Linked DNA regions of Homo sapiens: region 1 is linked to region 2. Evidence: fine-mapped expression QTL. A gene starts in region 2. The other region holds a variant in brackets. All regions are shown on one strand. Distances are between the middles of the regions.

Region 1 (8,335 bases), 35 kb after region 2:
TGCTGTTATATAATTACCTAGAGGTGGAATAATGAATGGTAAGTTATGGGCATCTTCAGCTTTACTAGATGTTGTAAAATTGCTCTCCAAAGCAATAGAACTAAGTACTGTAGTGCTTGAGTTTTTTGTAAACTTCTTTCTTTCCTTTTTGGACAGATTCTTTGTTTAAATAAAGGTGCTGGAAGGGCCCTTAAAAGGCATTGTGTAGTCAGTTAATGTTGCTGCATACAGACAACTTTGAAATTTGAATGGTGGCAGAGTGTGGTGGCTCACACCTGTAATCCCAGCACTTTGGGAGACCAGGTGGACCGATTGCTTGAGCTCAGGAGTTCGAGACCAGCCTGGGCAACACGGCAAGATGTGATCTCTACAAAAAAATGCAAAAATTAGCTGGGTGTGGTGGCATGCACCTAGAATTCCACTACTTGGGAGGCTGAGGTGGGAGGATCACTTGAGCCAGGAGGTGGAGGTTGCAGTGAGCTGTGATTGCACCGCTGCACTGCACAGTCTGGGCGACAGGGCAAGATGGAACAAAAAAGAAGAAGAAAGAAAAAAAGAAATTTGAATGTTTTACAACAAGCGTTTATTTTGGGCTTATTGACCTGTGCATTGGTAGGGTTTGGCTGATGTGTAACGGGCTCAACTCAGCCTGACTCCAAGCAGTGGGTTGGGCTCAGGTTTGCTCCACATGCCTCTCATCCTCCTTGGACTTGTAGCTGAGGCAAATTTTTCTCATGGGAAAAGGCAAGAACTCGAGTGTAGGCCCACACAAACACTTTTCACGTCTTTGCTAGTGTTGTGCAACCATCCTGTTGGTCAAAGAATAGGTAGGCCCAAAGTCAAGAGCTCAGGAAATACACTCTGTCCATCGTGAAGCCATGGTATGAATGTGGATGTATAATTCCACTATAGGGGAAGGAAGATCTGGGGTCAATAACTGAATCTGCCACAGATATCAACGTTTTTTAGTTTCAGGATCTTCCTTCCTTCCTTCGTTCCTTCCTTCATTCCTCCTTCGTTCCTTCCTTCCTTCCTTCCTTCCCTCTCTTTCTTTCTTTCTTTCTTTCTCTTTCTTCTCCCTGTTTTTCTAATATCTTTTTTTTTTTTTTTGAGATAGGGTCTTGCTCTGTCACCCAGGCTGGAGTGCAGTGGCTGATCATGGCTCACTGCTGTCTCGGCCTTCCAAGTTCAATTGGTTCTCTCGCCTCAGCCTCTCAAGTAGCTGGCATCACAGGTACATGCCACCATACCCAGCTATTTTTTTTTTTTTAAGTAGAGACAGGGTCTCACTGTATTGCCCAGGCTGGTCTCAAACTCCTGGGCTCAAGGGATCTGTCCACCTCGGCCTCCCAAAAAGCTGGGATTACAGGCATGAGCCATTGTGCCCAGCTCTCTCTCTCTCTCTCTCTTTCTCTCTCTCTCTTTCTCTCTCTCTCTCTATTTCTCCTTCTTTCTTGGAGACAGGGTCTCTCTCTGTTGGCCAGGATGAAGTGCAGTGGTGTGATCATAGCTCACTGCACCCTTGAACTCCTGGGCTCAAGCGATCCTTCTGCCTCAGTGTCCTGATAGCTGAGAGTATAGGTATGCACCACCATGCTTGGCTAATTAAAAAAAAAAAATTTATAGAGACAGGGGGTCTCACTATTTTTGCCCAGGCTAGTTCAAAACATTTTCTTGAAACAAAACCTTATGTAGAATTGTAATGTAATATGGAGAAAAGTGAAGCTGCTCTGATTTGAAGTGGGAGTGGGGGTGTGCAGAACCCCTGCCTGCTCAACTCCCCTCTGTTCCCGAACACCTCTGCGGAGTCCCCCAGCTTCACAGAATGTAGTTTGATAGCCAGTCTCTTACATTGTTTCCTCTTCCAGGCAACGTCAACACTCTCCCCGCTGCAAGATCCAGGGATCTGCAGCAACACAACCAGGAGCAGATCCTCTCTGAGGGTTGAGTCTCAACATGTGGCCCAAAGGGGCGCCTCCTAGAAGCCAAGAGTAAAGAGGACGCCTGAGGCCACACCTGAATGTGGGCAAAGTAGATGACAAGATTAGAAACAGACCTGGTTTGCTCCGTGGCTCAGCCCAAGCTGGCTGGATTGACAGAACTTCAGCTCCTTGCCTGCCTCCAACTCAGGGAAGGAGATCCTTGTCCTGTGGAACATCTGGCTCTCATGTCATGAGTCTTCTGTCAGAGTGATGGTGGCTTCTTATCATTATTGACTTTCACCATGGTCTTAGCAGCACCTTTTGGGCAGGCAGTCTGGTTGCTGTTTCCAGAACGGAGCCACAGGCCAGCCCCATCCCATGTGGCCTCTGTAATGCTTTCCTCTTCCATAGGCAGTGTGAGAAGCCCATCCACCAGAGTTACAGTGGGGAGGTGATGAGTCAGACCACATCCTATTGTGAGCTTGCAAGGCTGCTTTCATTAGGTGTTAGTTCCCTGTGGCTGGCTGGACCAGGAAGCAAGGTCCAGCCCCCTCTTCTCCTCTCCATGCCCCAGTAGGCTCCCCTGCTCTCTCCAACCCTCCCGCAACAGCCAGTCTTCCCCTCCCAGGCGCTGCTCCTGGAGCTCAATCAGCAACTCCATCTCCAAGCTTTATGTTTCCCATTAGATTTCTCCTAATTTTCTTGTCCTTTACAACCTGACAGTATCTGTACTTTTGTTCTTATGATCTAATTACAATTAGTGATTTAATGAGACTACCCTCGGAAGCTGCAAGAAAGGCAGTGATGGGCAGGATGGTGGAGACGGGAAAGTAAGCAGACACTTGGTGTCTATAGGGGATTTGTCTTGCATTTATTAATTCTACAAATGTTTATTAAGCATCTATTATATGCCAGCATCCAGGCTAGGCAATGAGAAGATAGTGACAAACAAGAACATCGAGCCAGTTATCTGTTTCTCCCCCTCCCCACTTGCTGGTGAGGTCTTGCCGCATCTGGACATGTTTTCCGTAACTGACTTCCATTTATTTGGCTGCTGAGCTCTGGCTGGCTGCTTAGACATTCTGCTGCTGTGCACTCATCCCAGCCAGAGCAGCTTTACAGACATTTACTGCTTGTACCCTTGAGTTTGCTTCACTTTTTGAACTAAGCACCTTGAACCTTCACAGCTGCCTTCTGCAGGGGCCCAGCCCTGGAACTGA[A/ATTTT]TTTTTTTTTTTTTTGAGATGTTATCTTGCTCTGTCACCCAGGCTGGAATGTAGTGGTGCTATCTCGGCTCACTGCAACCTCCACCTTCTGGGTTCAAGTGATTCTCATGCCTCAGCCTCCTGAGTAGCTGGGACTACAGGCACCCGCCACCATGCCTGGCTAATTTTTGTATTTTCAGCAGAGATGGGGTTTCACCATGTTGGCCAGGCTGGTCTCAAACTTCTGACTTCAAGTGATCCACCCACCTCGGCCTCCCAAATTGCTGGGATTACAGGCGTGAGCCACTGAGTCCAGACTGGAGCTGAAATTTTGCCCCCTACTCAACTCTATCCTGAGCTCTGGCCTGGCTTGTTCTCACCTCCCTGTCTTAGACTCTAGAGAAGTGGGCACTGTTTAAGGCCAACCATTGACTTCTGATAATATAATTAGATAAAGGCTTCTGGACTAACTCCATTGCCTTTGTATACATTGGTTTCCTCTGATAAGAAAACTGGGTAGTAACTAAAGCCACATTCTCTGGAGAGATGAAAGATTAACCAAGAGAAGACTAAGCTTCCACTGTTTATTTAGAACGTTTAAGGAACCAGAAGTGGGTAGCTGCTGCTTGACTCTCTTTATCATGTGGGTGCCTCTGTCTCCTTCTGTCTTCTTGTCTGTAAGTGTCTCTTGTCAAGCCTGATTGTCCCAATACTCCCAGCAACTTTGGAATTCAGGGGTCTGCCTTACAGCCTCATGAGCTCTGTGTATGTTTGCAGGACTCTATTTTAAGCACTATCAGAGTTTGGAGCTCAGTTTCAGCCCTCTGTGTGGGAGTGCCTTAGCGAGATACTGGCAATCCGGATTTCAGATTCTGTGAAATAGCTTACTTCAGATCATTCCTCCAGGGTTGCATCTCCTTGGATTTTGAATGATTGGTTTCAGACTTTTAGCCTCAGGACTTGGCATTTCAGAATGTTAGGTCTCTTCATAGCTTAACTAATCTACATTCTTGTTGACCTTTAATCAATAAGAGATGGTCTTGGCTTAACCATGGGACAGATTCTGTTTTACAAGATTTCTTTCTTTATAGAGGCTCAGGGGTAGGATGATGCCTTTCCCACTTCAAACAGTCATTTTAACCTCTTTTGATGGGTATATTCTTGGGAGTGCAGTATGTTCTTGGGATGAAGGAAGGAGATGCTGGAAAAACACAACTTTATATCCCCATCCTTCAGAGTATAACAGATCTTTATCTTGATCAAATGTCCAATGTCAACTTTTTTACATGTAAAATGGGATGCGTGTGTGTGTGTGTGTGTGTATGGAGGGAGGGTAGCAGAGACTACTAAACATCTTTCTCATGGAACCGTGATGGGGTTTGACAATGTTGTGTGATTTTTCATGGAAATCTTAAACAAGAATACAGTTGTGCCTAGGCAGGCAATACACTAATACACTGACTGGGACCCATCTGTAGCTCTTAGAACACAACAATAGCTAATATTATTAAGCACTTACTAAATACTTTATCTTACTTGAAATTCACAGCCTCCTAATAATAATTTGAATTATTACCATCCCTACTGACAATTAGGTCACTCAATAACAAATGGCAAAGGAAGGGTTTGAGCTCAGCTCAGACTTGGCATCAAGGCTCTGTAATCTTCCACTTTGTAGTGACTGGAGCTGTTGAAATGATTATTCCAGTGTAATCTTTTTTTTTTTTTGGACAGAAATATTTCTATTAAGGATGGGTCAGAGGCCTAAAAGCAGGTCTGTCTATCTCCCTGCCCAAGTTCTTTCCACTTCACTAGGCTGCCTGTGAAGCCTGAGATCCATCACCGCCTCTTGGAAAGTTGTGACATCATGTAATTCTCTTGGCTTGAAGGCCACTCTGTCCCACTGGCTGTTGAATGAAGATGCTTGTCAGTGAATTACAATTTTCTTTAACATTTTTTCCATGCTAACCCATTATGATGGTTTTTTAAGGAAGACAAATGTTGATTAAGCATGTACTATGTGTAAGGCAATTTCACACACATTATTCCCTTTTTCTCCTCATGCCAATATAGGAATGGTGCAGTAGGAATAATTATTCCCATTTTACAGTTGAAGAAATGGAGGTGACAATACACCCATTTTAGCTTATGGAGACTCAAAATACCATATACAAAATCAGCAGGTGGGTGAGTAGGGGGCACAGCTAGAGGATGATGGCATTAGGAGGGGCCACATGGATCATCAATGTGAGAAAACATTTTAAATGATCCATTTTCAAGGCATGATAAATCTAAGTACTGGCAGCCAGGCTGCAAACGTAACAAACCACATGTCTCATGCACCTAGAAGGTCACCATAAGTGAATAGAATGTAGAAGAGGGGTCAGCCCATAAAAGGGAAGAAAGTTTTGTTATTGGGAAATTGAAACTTAAGCAGGGGAGGAGACCAGGGCATAACCTTAGAAGGGAGATAATGAAACTTAGGCGATGTCTAGGAAGATTGTAACCCCATAGTACTCAACCAATGAGGAACTGGGGGGAGGATTTGTGTGCTAGGAGATAAATTACCTGTTGTAACTGCCCTGGGTGTGCCTGCCTACCAGACACCTGATCTTGCAAGTCCACCATTAAAAGTCTCGCTTCCGCTGTTCTTCGTGTCTCTGAGTCCATTCTTCGGGTTTGGATGGGTGAATGTATGTTTCTCACAAACCTGGAGGCCCATCTGGGATCTCTGTGCCTGCGTGGAGTAAGACTCTGGGTGAGAGGGGAGATGTGTCCCACCTGATTTAGGTGGCCTGCTCTGTCCGGGCGCCCCGGCTCCCTGCAGAAGCCATAGACAAACTCGAGACTGTTACTCAGGAGGCAGTGGAGGTGACAGAGGGAGAAAAGCAGGCACTGTGGCAACCAGGCAAACTTGTGCATGAGCCAAGGTAGAAAATTGGACTATAAGTACTGCCTTGGTGGTTGGGCATTTTCGGAGGTCAAGTGTGTGTGACTGAGAGGTATCTTAGATACGAAGCGAGTGCAGAGTCCCAATCCGCAGTTCCATTCTCCTGCAAGGGAAATGGCCGGAGATGGATGAAGTGATTTTCGGGGTGTGCAAGAAACCTCCAATAGAGGGGGGTTATGTACACAAGGAAACTCAGACACAGAGACTGACCAAAAATGGGAAACAGAAATTCTAGGCCAAGGGGACAAAGGAAAGAGGGAATCAAAGACTCTCTCTGACATTCCCTGGATAGTCTTTTGGGGAGAGTGCTGCAGGTTTGGAGGGACAACTCTCGAACCAGGGACAAGGAAAAGCAAAAGATGAAAAAGTATTGCTGTTTTATCTGTCCCAAGGACCCCATTTGTAAGCCTTCAGTCTTTTGGCCTAACTTTGGATCAGACGAGGACTGGGTTTGCCAAGTTTTAATTCTCTATGTGAATGATAAAACCCCATACTGACGAGAAGAGATAGGTTACACTCTCTGATGGATCATGGAATTAGCCCCCATGTTCCCCCTCAAAGAAGAGAAAGAGCCTAGTAAAAAGTCCTCACCCAGGGAAAAGCCCTGGGACCCCCTACCATGCTTGCCCCTTCCATACGTCTCAAAAAATAGGGGACAGGAAGATCAAGGGGCAGGAGGAAGGTTAGAGGAAGAAAGACCTGGAGACCATGGGGGAGCTGAACCAACCTCTCCTTTAAATCTTTATCCAAATTTAAGTAAAGAATTAGAACAGTGTAAGAGGCTATGTGTGTCTCTGCATGTGAGATGGGTCTCCTGAATACAGCACACTGATGGGTCTTGACTCTTTATCCAATTTGCCAGTCTGTGTCTCTTAATTGGAGCATTTAGCCCAATTACATTTAAGGTTAATATTGTTATGTGTGAATTTGATCCTGTCGTTATGATGTTAGCTGGTTATTTCGCTCATTAGTTGATGCAGTTTCTTCCTAGCATCCATGGTCTTTACAATTTGGCATGTTTTTGCAGTGGCTGGTACTGGTTGTTCCTTTCCATGTTTAGTGCTTCCTTCAGGAGCTCTTGTAAGGTAGGCCTGGTGGTGACAAAATCTCTCATAGGCTCAAAATAAAGGGTTGGAGGAAGATCTACCAAGCAAATGGAAAACAAACAAAAAAAAAAGAAGCAGGGGTTGCAATCCTAGTCTCTGATAAAACAGGCTTTAAACCAACAAAGATCAAAAGAGACAAAGAAGGCCATTACATAATGGTAAAGGGATCAATTCAACAAGAAGAGCTAACTATCCTAAATATATATGCACCCAATACAGGAGCACCCAGATTCATAAAGCAAGTCCTTAGAGACTTACAAAGAGACTTAGACTCCCACACAATAATAATGGGAGACTTTAACACCCCACTGTCAACATTAGACAGATCAATGAGACAGAACGTTAACAAGGATATCCAGGAATTGAACTCAGCTCTGCACCAAGTGGACTTAATAGACATCTACAGAACTCTCCACCCCAAATCAGCAGAATATACATTCTTCTCAGCACCATCTCGCACTTATTCCAAAATTGACCACATAGTTGGAAGTAAAGCACTCCTCAGCAAATGTAAAAGAACAGAAATTATAACAAACTGTCTCTCAGAACACAGTGCAATCAAACTAGAACTCAGGATTAAGAAACTCACTCAAAACCACTCAACTACATGGAAACTGAACAACCTGCTCCTGAATGACTACTGGGTACATAACGAAATGACGGCAGAAATAAAGATGTTCTTTGAAACCAATGACAACAAAGACACAACATACCAGAATCTCTGGGACACATTTAAAGCAGTGTGTAGAGGGAAATTTATTGCACTAAATGCCCACAAGAGAAAGCAGGAAAGATCTAAAATTGATACCCTAACATCACAATTAAAAGAACTAGAGAAGCAAGAGCAAACACATTCAAAAGCTAGCAGAAGGCAAGAAATAACTAAGATCAGAGCAGAACTGAAGGAGATAGAGACACAAAAAACCTTTCAAAAAATCAATGAATCCAGGAGCTGGTTTTTTGAAAAGATCAACAAAATTGATAGACTGCTAGCAAGACTAATAAAGAAGAAAAGAGAGAAGAATCAAATAGACACAGTAAAAAAATGATAAAGGGGATATCACCACTGATCCCGCAGAAATACAAACTACCATCAGAGAATACTATAAACACCTCTATGCAAATAAACTTGAAAATCTAGAAGAAATGGATAAATTC
Region 2 (8,335 bases):
AGGCACTCGGCAGGCTGAGGCAGGAGAATCAGGCAGGGAGGTTGCAGTGAGCCGAGATGGCAGCAGTACCGTCCAGCTTTGGCTCGGCATCAGAGGGAGACCGTGGAGGGAGAGGGAGGGGGAGGGGGAGGGGGAGGGGGAGAGACCAAATTTCTTTGTATAAAAGTGTTAACCCAAGTGGAACAAAAATTAGTTGAGTACCAAGAAAATACTTTGCCAGATTTGCATGCTAAATCAGCGGATACTAAAATTGTTTAGATATACAATTTGAATGAACTCCATGGTCTAAGTCAAATTACCTATGATAACCCATCAGTTGTCAGTGCTATACAGCTAAACTGGAGAAACAACTGGTATTCAAGATGACGTAAGTCCGATGTTAAGCATGGACTCATGGAGAACCAGGACAGCAGCCTTGCCCTTCCTGAGTCCTTAAAGCTTTTGTTATTCAAGGTTATGCACTCCATGACTCATCATGGAAAAGATAAAATAATCCAAATTAAATATATATTGGTGTGCTGACTTATACATTGCTAAAGTAGTTTATAACCAATGTTTGGTTTGTCAAATCCATATTCCTGGGAAGACAATCAAATCTTCAAGTACATTTGGCTACCTCATGGGCCATTTAAACATTTCAATTGCCATTTTCAATGCATGTTTCTGGTTGTAAAAAAGCTTTCCTATGCAAGAGGGCTGATGTTATAACAGTAGATTATTATGCTACAGTGTATTTTCACCAGGTAAAGAAAGCTTTTTATGGGTCACTGAGGACAATCAACCCCTTCACAATCTAGAACCCAAAGATTGGGTCTTCTGAGAATATCTACTGTAAAGGCTATAGTTACACAACAGATTTTAAATTCTTTTGTGAAGGTTACGATAGAATCGGCTGAACAGAGAAGTATCTGTGCAGCTGCTGGCACTTGTGGCTTATGGAGAAATACATCAAATGAAGATTATAGAGATTTAGTTGTAGGGGATTAACGAAGAGATTTCTTAGTTAAGTGAGTAGATTCTTTAGCACATTCTTTGATTTAATTTTAGGTGGTTTGGTTTATGGGGATCCTTGGTATGAAGTATGCTCCAAACTCTTAGTATTATCCTCCCAGTAGTCATAATAATAGTCTCCCTGGTGCGCTGTATTATCTCAAAGGCTTTAAATGCTTGCATTCAGCCATCTCTAGAATGTCAAATGGTCTCTTTTCAAGTGGAATGACAAGAGCTGAAAGAAGTGCATGACCAGGAGGATACCATAACCTATGAATGATGTGGTGAGACTGGAAACCCAAAATGATGGCAAGTGAGTGTGGTGCTAAGGCCTTAAATTTTGGTCACACTCTCACCCAAGTGAGAACCTGACCAAAAAGGGAGAATTTTTTTAACAAAATTATGAGAGGCCAGTGTTTTGGACTGACATCATGTGCTAGGCCCCAGCAAACCAAACAAACCAAAACACATAGATCCTAAAACAGACCAGGTTTTGTTTTTCTCCTGCAAACAGGATGTTCCACCATAAGGAGGTACCCTCTACTCAGTCCTTGTTCCCACTGTACAAAACTCACTGTTGTTTTACTGTTTCCCAGTGGGTTTCAAGACCAAATAAGTTCATTTATGATGGTGGTAGTGACATGAATGACTAAAGGTTTGGTCAATCTCTCAAAATTGAGAAAATGACCAAAAGGGGGAAATTGTTAAAGCAAATTAAATATAGCCTGAGAAGGACTCCGTATTTCTATATTGGAGTCTCTGTGGATGAACGGTAACCTAACTTAGGAATATGTGCCTGTAAAAATAGCTGAGTCTTGGCCAATCCCAGCAACCCCAAATCAGGCCAGGAGATAAGGTACTTAATAAAACGTGGAAGTGCTCTGGATAATAGTGGCCATTTTTTTATTGCCTTCTTCCAAACTTATGGAATCACTTCCTTTGTAGTAATTAGCAGAATGTTTCAATTCATCTCCATAATGAACATTCCTGACAGCATAAGTATCCACCCCCTGAAGTTCCTGTTAAATCTTTTAACCATATTCATTTCCTTTCACATAGAGACCATCAAGCTTCAGATGATCATGTGACAAAGTTTCCAGTCAGTTCCAAGTGAAGACACCACCCCTGGCCATCAGGATGCCACACTGTCTCCACTAGACAGAGTAGGGCAAGAGTTCCATGATCTCCAGTAGGTAGGAACTACGCCCCAAGTTGGCATAAAGCAGTTACAGTTCCTCTGCATCCCATAAAGATTTATGGGGGTCATGTCTCTCAGGAGAGAGATGAGGCAGGAGAATAGGGTCTGGAGGCAGGAAACCTAAGGGTTCACCTGACTTCCTAGAACTAAATCAAAAGGAAAACCCCAACTTTCCGCACCTAAGTAACAAACGGACCAGAGACTACTCCCTTTGCAACCCCCACTCCCCACTTTCTGCTTGGCAGATGGAAAATCTTTTGAAAGTACCTCTGATTGCCTTTCCGCAACCAATCCTGCGTTTGCATAGAAGTGTAACTTTGTAACTTCACTTCAGCCTCTGATTGGTTGTGGAAAGCAACCAGTCAGACTGATTGCGGCCAAATATTCTTTTGCATAGGAGTGTAACTTTGTAACTTCACTTTAGCCTCTGATTGGTTGTGGAAAGTAACCGATCAGACTGATTGCGGGCCAAATCTTCTTTTGCATAGGAGTGCAACCTTTGTAACTTCACTTCAGCCTCTGATTGGTTGCTTTCCACAACCAATCAGACTAATTGTGGCACCACTTCATTTACATGGGGTGAACGCCAAGTGGCCAATGGGAAACCTCTAGGAGGTATTTGGACCCCAGAAGATTCTACAGCAGGGGCTCTTGAGCCCATATGCAGGGGCCTGCTCCCACCTTGTGGAATGCACTTTTGTTTTCAATAAATCTCTGCTTTTGTTGCTTCATTCTTTCTTTACTTGCTTTGCTTGTGCCTTTTGTCTAATTCTTTGTTCAAAATGACAAGAACAGGCCGGGTGCGGTGGCTCATGCCTATAATCCCAGCACTTTGGGAAGCTGAGGTGGGTGGATCACCTGAGGTCAGGAGTTCCAGACCAGCCCGGCCAACGTGGCGAAACCCCGTCTCTACTAAAAATAACAAAAAAAATTAGTGGGACGTGGTGGCGCACACCTGTAATCCCAGCTACTTGGGGGGCTGAGGCAGGAGAATCGCTTGAACCCAGGAGGCAGAGGTTGCAGTGAGCTGAGATCGTGCCATTGCACTCCAGCCTGGGCAACAGAGCCAGACTCTGTTTCAAAAAATAAATAAATAAATAAATAAATAAATAAATAAAGGCAAGAACCTGGACACCCTCCACCCGTAAACAGCCAAGACTGTGCCACAGCACTCCAGCCTGGGCGACTGACTGAGACTCTGTCTCAAAAAAATTAAAATAAAACAACAAAAGTATGAACCAAAAAAACCACCTCTGTGGGCTGGATGTGGCCTTGGGGGTACCAGTTTGCAGACCCTGTGTCAAGCGGCCTAGGACCCAATCTGTATCCTTTGTTAACTGTCACCGATACTGACCTCAGACCTGGACCACTGGGATCCTGCCCTGAACCCCGTGCTTTAGTTGGCCCACTCCAGCTGGAGCGTATGTTCCCTTCTAGATCATGCTCCTGGTACCCTGGACTCCGGAAATCCCTGTGTAAACAGCCCTGAGCCTGCTTCCAAGGTCTGACTTCCATCCACCCAGGGCAGCCTGCCCTGCCTGGCCTGAGTATCGTTAGAATGAAGGATGGCAGGGTAGGGGGTGTGTGTTTGCCTGAACCAGTAGACCCCCTTCAGTATGTATGGGATGGAGTCGTGTGGGAATAGAAGCAGCAAGACTACTAGCAAGGGCTCTGCATTTGTACTCTTGCCCCTGGCTAGGCAGTCGCCAGGGGTGGGCCTGCTTCTCACTGACCCGTGGGTCAGGCTGTAAATAAGAGCGACCCTCGATTCACTCTTTACCCTGGGCCAGGCAGTCCGATGCATCCTGCATCCCATCATTCCTAATACCAACTCTGAGGATGCTGACAAGCAGCAGCCCCGTTTTACAGACCGAGGCACAAAGGCTGAACTAAGTTGTCCATAGCTAGTGAGTGGCAGAGGCAGGGTTTCAATGGGACAGTCCGTGGCGGAGCACACTGGCTCCGCCGCCAGCCCCCCTGCGGTACCCATCCGCGCTCGCCGCCTGGGACCGCCAGCCCGGGGCGGGGCGCAGGCAGGGACCCTCCGCTCCCCTCTCCGTCTGCCGCCCGGACGGGCCACCGCGGGGGCGCGAGGAAGGGGTGTTGGGTCGCCAGGGCCCGCCTCCCAGCTGCCCCGGCCGCCGGGGGGCCTGGCGGTGACGGCGGCGCCTGGCGGCGGGGATTTGGCGCGGGCCGGGGGCCGGGGGCCGGGGCGCGGGGGCGCGAGGCTGGATTCCTAGGGCCGCGGCGCTTCCCGGCATGCTCCGCTGCAGGCCCGCGCCCGCGCCCGGACTTTGCCATCGGCGGGGCAGTCGCGGGATGCGCCCGGGAGCCACAGCCTGAGGTGGGTGAGCCCCGCCGGGCCGGGCGGGCCGCGGCGAGTCGGGGAAGGGGACGCGGGGGCGCGGGGCCTGGCCCGGCTGCCGGGGAGAGGGGAGGCGGGTGCCGCAGCTTTGTTCTTGCCGCGGGGCCGCGCGCCCGAAGTTGGGGAAAGGAGTAGGAGCCGCGCCCCGGAGCGCTCCGGGGCCCGTGCGGCGCGTCCCGGGCGGGCTGGGGGTCCCTCCCTCCCGGGGACAGAGTGGGCGTCCTGGGTGGACGAGCACGGGGAAGCGGGTAGGGTCTTGGGTCTGTTCTGTCCTTGTGGTTCTGGAACCGGAGGGGAAGGGGGAAAGTAAGGGAGAGAGAAAGAGACGGAGAAAAACAGGAAAACTTACTCTTCAGTACGCAGGGAAGAATAGAGAAAGAAAAACACAAAGAAACGCCACGCAGACTGCAGAGAAGGACCACGAACACACGCTCCGAGAAACACACTCAGCTCACACGCACTGAGAAGCACACTTAAGATAAACACTCAGGTCACACACACAAGCACACTAAGAAACATTCAGTTCACACACACTCAGAAACACACGCACTCAGAAGCACACAAGATAAACACTCAGCTCACACACAGAAGCACACTCAGAAACATTCAGTTCACACACACTCAGAAACACACGCACTCAGAGGCACACAAGATAAACACTCAGCTCACACACAGAAGCACACTCAAACATTCAGTTCACACACACTCAGAAACACACTCCGAGAAACAGTTCACACTCGCTCAGAAGCACACTCAGCTCACACACACAAGCACACTCGGAGAAACATTCAGCTCACACACACTCAGAAACATACTCTGAGAAACACAATCAGCTCACACCCACTCAAGCACACTCAAGATAAACAGCTCACACAAGCACATTCAGAAAACACTCAGAAACATAGCTAACACTCAGAAACACACTCTGAGAAACACAGCTCACACACTCAGAAGCACACTCTGAGAAACAGCTCACACACACAGAAACAGAAAAACAGCTCACGCACACTAACACAAACACACACGGAGAAACACACTTAGAAGCACACTCAGCTCACACACACCCAGAGAAACACGATCAGAGAAACACTCAGAACGCACAGGAAGAGAGAGGAAACCAAGTGGGTGGTCTTGGAGGCCTGGGGACCGGGGGAGGGGAAGGAGAGACACTGAGAAGCGGGAGACGGGAGCAGCAGAGGGAAAGATGCCTGGAAAGAGAAACAGAGATAAAGGCAGACATAAGAGGAGGCAGAAAACACAAAGGCCAAAAGGAGGTGGTTAAAAGGACAGTAAAGAGAAACACACACGTAGAGAAACAGAGGCGGACCCTGAGAATTACCCCCCTCCCCCACCTACCTCTCACAAAATCAGCGACACACACAGAAGAGGCAGATGCCAGCCTTCTCCTTCTTGTGGTCCAGTGAGCTCGAGATGGGAGAGCAGCTCTGTGAGCCCTTTGAGAAAGGCTTCCTTGGCACTTTAAGCCAGGCATGTCCCAACCTTGTCTACCTGGCAAACTCCTGCTCATCCTTCAAAACCCAGCTCTAGCCTCACCACTCCTGTGAAAGTGTCAGTTCCCAGAAAGTGTCATGCAAGCACAGTTACTCTCTTTTCTGTGTTCTTCTGCAGGAAGCACAGGCACATGGAGTTGAAGTGGTTTGTCACCTGTCTGCCTCTCCCACCAACTCCTTAAGATCAGGGTCTCTGTCCTATCTATCTCCAATCTCCAGTGCATGATGCATAGTAGATGATCAATAAATACTTAGTGAATGGTGACCGAGAGCGTTTGGACCCTCCGAGACATGGAGGATAGAATTAAGTGCAAATAGAGGAAAAGCACCCTCCTGGTATTCTAAGGACTCCTAAGTCAGAGTGTCTTTTTTTCACGTGGGGAAATTAAAGCCCAGAGAGGGGAGAATGCTTGCACAAAGAGAGACAAGCAGGAGGCCTACAATGAAATAACAGTGAATATGTACTTCTGTGAGATGCCCTTGTTCTTCTGGCTTATGAGTTTAAAATAGGTGTGAAAGACCCCGTTCTTCAGTTCCTCTCTCCAGAGGCAGCTACTGTTATCAAGTTACATTTTATGTGTGTTTGTGCCTATCGATGTGTTCATACTAAAAAAATTCTGTGCACTAGTATATACAAATGCACGGACTTCTTTCATTCTTCTTTTGTACACAAATAAAAGAATTCTATGAGAAAAAGAAATAGATGTGAAACAGTCTCCTGAGTGAAAACTGGCAAGAGGCAATGGACACTTTAATGCCAGTTCTAAGTTTCCAACACTGAAACTGGCAATTAGAACTCTTTCCAGAACCTTTACAGTCTTCTTTCTTCCTTAGAAAGGAAAAGTAGAGTGAATGTCCATCTCAGTGTAAGTGGATGGCTTTCCATCTCCTGACTGCATATTGGAAAAATTCTGTAACCTCCCTGAACCTCAGTTTCCTCAACTGTAAAATGGGATTACTAATATGTCCACTTCATAAGATTGTTGTTGGAAAAGTTAACAAAGAACCTGGTGCAGAGTAGATCCTCAGTAAATACAGTTTCATCTTTCCTCTCTTTAATGGGTGTTCTTTTGTGCATGTTTTTATGGCTGCGAAAACAACTGCTAGTTAAAATGTTTCCTTTTGTCTAGGGTTTAAAAAGCTATTTTAAGGCCGGGCTCGGTGTCTCACGCGTGTAATCCCAGCACTTTGGGAGGCCCGAGGTGGGTGCATTACTTGAGGTCAGGAGTTCAAGACCAGCCTGGCCAACATGGTGAAACCCCGTCTCTACTAAAAATACAAAAAATTAGCCGGGTGTGGTGTCAGGCACCTGTAATCCTAGCTACTTGGGAGGCTGAGGCAGGAGAATCGCTTGAACCCAGGAGGCAGAGGTTGCAGTGAGCTGAGATCGTGCCATTGCACTCCAGCCTGGGTGACAGAGCTAGACTCCATCTTAAAAAAACAAACAAACACAAACAAACAAACAAAAAATTTTAGTCCAACTGGGGAGCAAATTCTTCTGAGAAAGGAAAAGGCAAATTTGGGGCATGGCATAAATTTTACCTTGGTTCTCTTCAGGCCCTCAGGTCTCTGCAGGTGTCGTGGAGGAACCTAGCACCTGCCATCCTCTTCCCCAATTTGCCACTTCCAGCAGGTAAGACCCACCTGTCCCACTCTCTTTCGTGGCTTCTTGACCAGATCTGCTCTGACTTCATGTTCTCTCAAGCTTTAGCCCATGAGGAGGATGTGACCGGGACTGAGTCAGGAGCCCTCTGGAAGCATGGAGACTGTGGTGATTGTTGCCATAGGTGTGCTGGCCACCATCTTTCTGGCTTCGTTTGCAGCCTTGGTGCTGGTTTGCAGGCAGCGCTACTGCCGGCCGCGAGACCTGCTGCAGCGCTATGATTCTAAGTGAGTGAGCCTATGGAGGGCAAGGAGGAGGGGTGGGCTCTAACTAAAGAAAAAGAGAGGAACACGTAGTTCAGTGTTGGGCAACTCTAACTCAGCTTTTTGGTTCTAAAATGGTACCTGCAGGTGTCCTTCCCTGTAAAGACCTCAGAGTTTAAGAATGTTCCTTAAGCCTCCCAACATCCTGAGTCACCTCCTTCTCTGCTTCCTGAGCCAAGAAGAAAGTCACTGAATATGAACATGTTCACCTAGCATAAAAGCTCAGCCATCTGTCTCAAACTGGCCACCTCACTTAGCATTTGGATAAGCCAAATCACTTTCCAGCCAGACCCACAGGAACAGAAATCAGATGCCCACACTCTGGCCATACATCTAAGCAACAAA

The links. PIP is the estimated chance that this variant, and not a neighbour inherited with it, causes the effect. A credible set is the group of variants that fine-mapping cannot tell apart.
Region 1: its variant is the best candidate, but not a certain one, in a credible set for the expression of TMEM98 in subcutaneous fat (TwinsUK, PIP 0.69).

The regions. Positions count from the first base shown.
Region 1 is chr17:32,958,683-32,967,017 of GRCh38, forward strand. No RefSeq gene overlaps it. Among named protein-coding and RNA genes, the nearest start is that of SPACA3, 29 kb to the right of the region's middle. The variant A/ATTTT (reference allele first, on the strand shown) is at 3,143.
Region 2 is chr17:32,923,706-32,932,040 of GRCh38, forward strand. TMEM98 (transmembrane protein 98) reads left to right here and starts at 4,448. Exons shown (of 8, transcript NM_015544.3): 1 at 4,448-4,532; 2 at 7,622-7,697; 3 at 7,770-7,954. The coding sequence starts at 7,824.